2 separate regions of the Homo sapiens genome follow, and region 1 is linked to region 2. The links come from fine-mapping of genetic effects on gene expression. A gene starts in region 2. The other region holds a variant in brackets. All regions are shown on one strand. Distances are from middle to middle.

Region 1 (2,906 bases), 230 kb before region 2:
AAAAAATTGTTGGCTTAGGTCTGCAATGAGGAATTTTCTAATGTACAGGCATATCTCATTTTATTGTGCTTCACTTTACTGCACTTTGCAGATGCTGTATTTTTAAACAAATTGAAGGGCTGTGGCAGCCCTGCAATCAAGCAAGTCTATTGGCACCATTTTTCTAATAGCATGTGCTCACTTTCTGTCTCTGTCACACTGTGGTAATTCCTGAAATATTTCAAACATTTTCATCATTATTATATATTATTATATATTATATTATTATGGTGATCTATAACCAGTATGATTTTTGATGTTACTGTTGTGATTGTTTCAGGGTACCACGAACTACACCCATATAAGACGGCAAACTTAATACATGTTGTGTGTGTTCTGACTGCACCGAGTAGCTGTTCACTTTCTCCCTCTCCTCAGGCCTCCATATTCTCTGAGACAATACTGGAATTAGGCCAATTAACAACCCTACAATGGCCTCTCTGTATCCAGTAAAAGGAGGAGTCACACATCTTTCACCTTAAATCAAAAGCTAGAAATGATTAAGCTTCCTCACTTTAAATGAGGGCCCTGTCACACACACACACACACACACACACACACACACACACACACACACACACACAGAAGTTTGAGAACCACTGATGTAAATAAACAAAATACATCATCATTGTAAAGGTTTTATTTAAAATTTCATTTTACTTCACAAGTGGGCTAATTGTCATTAAACACTGTTGGGTACTTATATAAAGCAAGGTCTAGATTTGTCTAATATCTTTAGGGCAAAAGGCTGTGCACAAAAATGATTCAAATTAATTGTGGTTATGATGATGATTGAGATAAATTTTTATACAAATAGGTAAGTTTAGTAGCTTCAAATCTAATGAAGCCATTTATAATGAATACCATCTAATTCAGCTGCTAAATCCAATTCATGGAATTGAAAAAAGACAACATTCCTGGCTTTTTACCATTAACACATGTGCAGGCAAGATACTAGTTAAAAGCATTTGAGAACAATCCTGTAATCCCAGCACTTTGGGAGGCCGAGATGGGCGGATCAGGAGGTCAAGAGATTGAGACCATCCTGGCTAACACAGTGAAACCCCTCTCTACTAAAAATACAAAAAAGACATTAGCTGGGTGTGGTGGCGGGTGCCTGTAGTCCCAGCTACTAGGGAGGCTGAGGCAGGAGAATGGCATGAACCCAGAAGGTGGAGCTTGCAGTGAGCTGAGATCCCGTCACTGCACTCCAGCCTGGGCGACAGAGCGAGACTCCTTCTCAAAAAAAAAAAAAAAAAAGACTTGATCCCAATATTACAAAAAAAAAATTTTTTTTTTATCCAGATAGTAAAAGCTGAATTGCCTAGACAAATGCATACAATTTAATCAGGTGTGCATTTCTGGAGAAGATTTGCTTTTTTGTGTTTTTGGCTGACTGAATTCCTAACACCAAACCAAAACACATTCAGTTATGTACTCAATAATGTACTATTACTACTTACAACATTCTGAAAT[G/GAAGA]AAGCCTCATAACTACAAATGAACACATTTGTATTCCTTAATATGTAAAATACATTTTTTTTTGAGACAGTATCTCACTCTGTTGCCCAGGATGGAGTGCAGTGGTGCGATCTCGGCTCCGCCTCCCAGGTTCACGCCATTCTCCTGCCTCAGCCTCCCGAGTAGCTGGGACTACAGGCGCCCGCCAACATGCCCAGCTAATTCTTTGTATTTTTAGTAGAGATGGGGTTTTACCATGTTAGGCAGGATGGTCTCAATCTCCGGACCTCGTGATCCGCCCGCCTCGGCCTCCCAAAGTGCTGGGATTACAGGCATGAGCCACCGCGCCCAGCCCATTTTTTTTTTTTGAGACAGAGTTTTGCTCTGTTGCCCAGGCTGAAATACAGTGGTGTGATCTCGGTTCACTATAACCTCCGCCTCTCAGGTTCAAGGGCTTCTCTCGCCTAGGCCTCCTGAGTAGCTGGGATTACAGGTGCCCACCAATACACCCAGCTAATCTTTGTATTTTTAGTACAGCTGCAGTTTTGCCATGTTGGCCAGGTTGGTCTCAAACTCCTGGCCTCACGTGATCCACCTGTCTGAGCTTCCCAAAGTGCTGGGATTATAGGCATGAGCCACTGCGCCTGGGTGTAAAATACATTTTAATGGCATTTCAATTACAATGCATGCTTGAGGGCATGGGTCTGTATCATGAGACACAACAGAAGGAACACTTACAAACCCATCATCCAATCTAAGAAGCAAAACATTACTAACCTCACAAATTGTTAAGTCACTCTGATTCCCTCAACCTTTCTGCCACCTTTTTAAATTTTTTTGAGATGGAGTCTTGCTCTGTCACCCAGGCTGGAGTGCAGTGGTGTGATCTCCATTCACTGCAACCTCCGCCTCCCAGGTTCAAGCAATTCTCTGCCTCAGCCTCCCAAGCAGCTGGGATTACAGGCGCCCACCACCACGCTCGGCTACTTTTTGTATTTTTTAGGAGAAACAGAGTTTCACCATTTGGCCATGCTGGTCTTGAACCCCTGACCTCGTGATCTACCCACCTCGGCCTCCCAAAGTGCTGAGATTACAGGCATGAATCACCACACCCAGTCGCCTACTCTCTTTTAGTGATATTTTCTACTCCATTTAATCTCATTCATTTTCATTTACGGGTCTTATATCAGTATTACCAAGACTATTTGTAAATACTCTTAAGATCTACTCAGAATTGCAGATATCAACCTGTAGAACCTGTTCTTACACTACAGTATTCCTTGCATAAACACTTAACATATTTTTAAAATGTTGCTCAAATGAAATTAACTTATACCTCTAGTAACTCTGACGAAACATCAAATTTGTATTCTCTGCCATTTTCTTCCTCTGGTTCCATGCGTTTGTAAAAC
Region 2 (2,906 bases):
AAATACCATGGTACATTTTATAAATCAACTGTTTTAGCGAATTGTATTACAAAATTAGATAGTCTGAAAGTCTGTGGAAATATCACAAACAGAATACAAATCCAAAACCCACATAAACTGTTCATAAGTGAGCATTTTTTCAACAATCAACTTTTTGTAAATTGATCCCTTCATCTAATTCACCTCTGCCAACTAGGCCTTTACGCCCAGAAGTAGTTGATTTGCAATATATCTTCTATAAGCTGAAATACCATCTTGCAAGGGTCGAGAATAAAATAAAAAGGCCAGAAAAGATCAACGTACCCTTTTTAATAATAAAAAGTAAAGTACCAGGTAAAAGGCCTTTCCTTCCAAGAGAGATAGGCCATAACTATCCCGGGATGGTATGTGTAGTACAGTGCTCTGCTTAACAGAATGTACCATTAAAGCGGTGAATGCTACACTAAGAAACATCATTAACAAATTTATTTTAAAAATAGGTATGAAGGTTCCAATCATCACTATCACAGTTCGTTTTCAGCTATTTAAGGTCTGGCTGAAGTGTTTAAGACACCCACAAACCCGCAAGGGAGGGAAAAACCACCACCCTGCTCCCGGGAGTTTAATGAAAATTAGCAGGTAAGAGAGGCCTCGGCAGCACGCTGGAAATCAAAGAGGGCGGCCGGAGGATTTGGACTGCGGAGGAAAGCCTCGTCCTCCGACCCCACCTCCCCGCACCTTCCCGGCAGGGCGAAGGAGGCGAAGGCGGCGAGGGGTTCATTACTGCCTTCATTAATTGACACCTGTAATGAGGAAACTTTCCGAGAGCCCAGAGCGCCCGGGCCAGGCCGAGCCGGAGCTCCGCGGCGGCCGCCTCTCGGGCGCCCAGGTAACCCGGCCGGGCTGGGCCCGAGGCGCCGCGGCGGCCGCGCCACCGCGCACCTTCCCGGGGCGCTAGGCCCGCACGCCGCCCGGCCCGGCCGTCGCCTCCCGCAGGCCGCGGCAGCCCGGGGAGGCCAGAGAGCTGCGCGAGGACCCCAAACCGTGCACCCCGACAGGCCGCTACCGCGGCTACTTACTTTCATTTAACACCTCCACCAGGTCTGCGCAGTTCTCGCACATCGTTCGGCCGCCGCCCCCCCCCTCCCCCGCTTCGGATCACACTGACTGATCCCGACCGGCGGGGGGGAGGGGAGAGAGGCGGAGGAGGGGGCCGGCCGGCCGGCGGGGCGGGGAGGCGACTAGGGCGGGCGGCGGCGGGGACGGGGCGGGGAGCAAGAGAATGGGGGAGGGGGCCGGCGGTCCCCGCAGCGGGAGGGGGAGAGGAGGGGAGCGAGGGGAGGTGCGCAGGCCGGAGGGGCGCCGAGGCGCCGGCGGCGGGGAAGGGGGGGAAGGACGGGGGGAGGGGAGAGGGGGGGAGGGGGCGGGTGGGGAGAGAAGCAGCAGAGTCACTTCACCGACCAGACGCCGCGGCCACCGCCGACGCCGCCGCCATTTTAACAGAGCGCTCGGGCTGCGCTCGGCTCTTTCCGCCCGGGCTTAGGAGCGGACGAGAGGCGCCTCGCGCTCTCATTCCTCCGCCTCCCTCCCTTTCTCGCCTCTCCTCCGCCCCCCACCTCTCCCTCCGCACACACGCCGCACGCTCCACACCCCGCCGTGGCCGGCTCGCCGCCCTCCCTTTCCTCTTCCGTCCGGCCTCCCCGCCCTCGGTCCACCCCCTCCGCGCGCTCGCCCACCCCGCCCAGCCCGGATCTCTGTCAGCGGCCGGAAGGGAAACGCGAAGCCAGCGCGGCCGCGGGGGGAGTCCGGGTGAGTAGGAGAAGATGGCGGAGGCAACGGACGGGTCGCGGTTGCGTGGCGTCGCCCACCACGACCCACTCCACGGGCTCTGAGGCCCGGGGAGCGCCAGGTCACTCGCTCCGTCCTGTCCCCCGCCCCTGGGCTTCGCCATTTTTCCCCAGGGCCTGGGTCGGGGAGTTGGTGCGGGTTTCTTTGGTGTCCCCGGCCTCTTCCGCGCTTAGGCTTTTGGGGTACGGGAAGCAAGGAGTCAACTTGGGTGCCGGGCCGGGTCTACGCCGTAGCCCTCTTTCGGGCGCAAGGGCCACTCCCCCCGGGGTCTGAGAGTGAATCAGCCCAGGGCCCGGCTTAACTGCATCGGTGATTATCGCTACCCTGCAGTTCCTTGAAGGTCCTCCGTCCTGGAGCAGTAAGATCCTTGACGTAACTAGAAATGGCAGGGTAAGGAGTGTTTGCCTGACATCGTCTCGTTTTTACGGAAGAGGGCCCCTCACGATGTGCCCATCAGCCCCACCTGAAATAGCAAGAAATCTTCTTCAGCAGAGAGCGAATAACAAGGATATTAAGATAAAGAACAGGTGAAGGGGGCAGTCAGCTGAAGCTTGTAAGGGAATTTTCCTCACGCCGGCACTTACCCCTTGCTTGCTAATTTTTGTGTTCAACGTGTTTACATAGACATGTGACTGCAAAGTCCGAAAGATCGTGTACAGAATCTCTGAACGGTAACCAGAGTGTCTGTCAAGGCTCTGTAGTCATTCTCTCGATAGCTTTTGTGGAGGTTATGGCACGCCCATCTCTCCATGCCAGAACCACCTGGTTCCAAATGCTTTGCCTTTCTGCTGCTTGAAGTTGATACTATAAACAGTCTGCCCAACCCGTTTTGTTTCCCACTAGCAGGTGATCCTTAGGATTGTAGTTCTATTCTACCATCATCTTCCCTTCTTCCTTGTCTTTCTCACAGAATTGGGTTTTTGCAGACTTACTTTGGATCCTGAGGCAGACATTCGTTGTCCACTCAACATACATTCCCACGTATCCCTTTTTTCCCTGCCAACACAACCCCAATTATTTTTATTTGAATTTTTTTTTTTTGAGACAAAGTCTCACTCTGTCGCCAAGGTTAGAGTGCA

Direction of the effects. Alleles are on the strand shown, and positions count from the first base shown. SD is a standard deviation of normalised expression in the study named.
With allele GAAGA in place of G in region 1, the expression in lung of the gene that starts at base 1,496 in region 2 is higher (small effect, 0.18 SD a copy in GTEx).

Evidence for each region. PIP is the estimated chance that this variant, and not a neighbour inherited with it, causes the effect. A credible set is the group of variants that fine-mapping cannot tell apart.
Region 1: its variant is the best candidate, but not a certain one, in a credible set for the expression of USP34 in lung (GTEx, PIP 0.74).

Annotation. Positions count from the first base shown.
Region 1 is chr2:61,238,730-61,241,635 of GRCh38, forward strand. It overlaps USP34 (ubiquitin specific peptidase 34), which reads right to left. Exons shown (of 80, transcript NM_014709.4): 53 at 2,831-2,906. Among named protein-coding and RNA genes, the nearest start is that of C2orf74-AS1, 62 kb to the left of the region's middle. The variant G/GAAGA (reference allele first, on the strand shown) is at 1,516.
Region 2 is chr2:61,469,592-61,472,497 of GRCh38, forward strand. It overlaps USP34 (ubiquitin specific peptidase 34), which reads right to left and starts at 1,496. Exons shown (of 80, transcript NM_014709.4): 1 at 1,059-1,496. The coding sequence starts at 1,101. USP34-DT (USP34 divergent transcript) reads left to right here and starts at 1,505. Exons shown (of 3, transcript NR_185882.1): 1 at 1,505-1,788. RefSeq lists silencers at 818-1,237, 1,328-1,407, 1,438-1,747.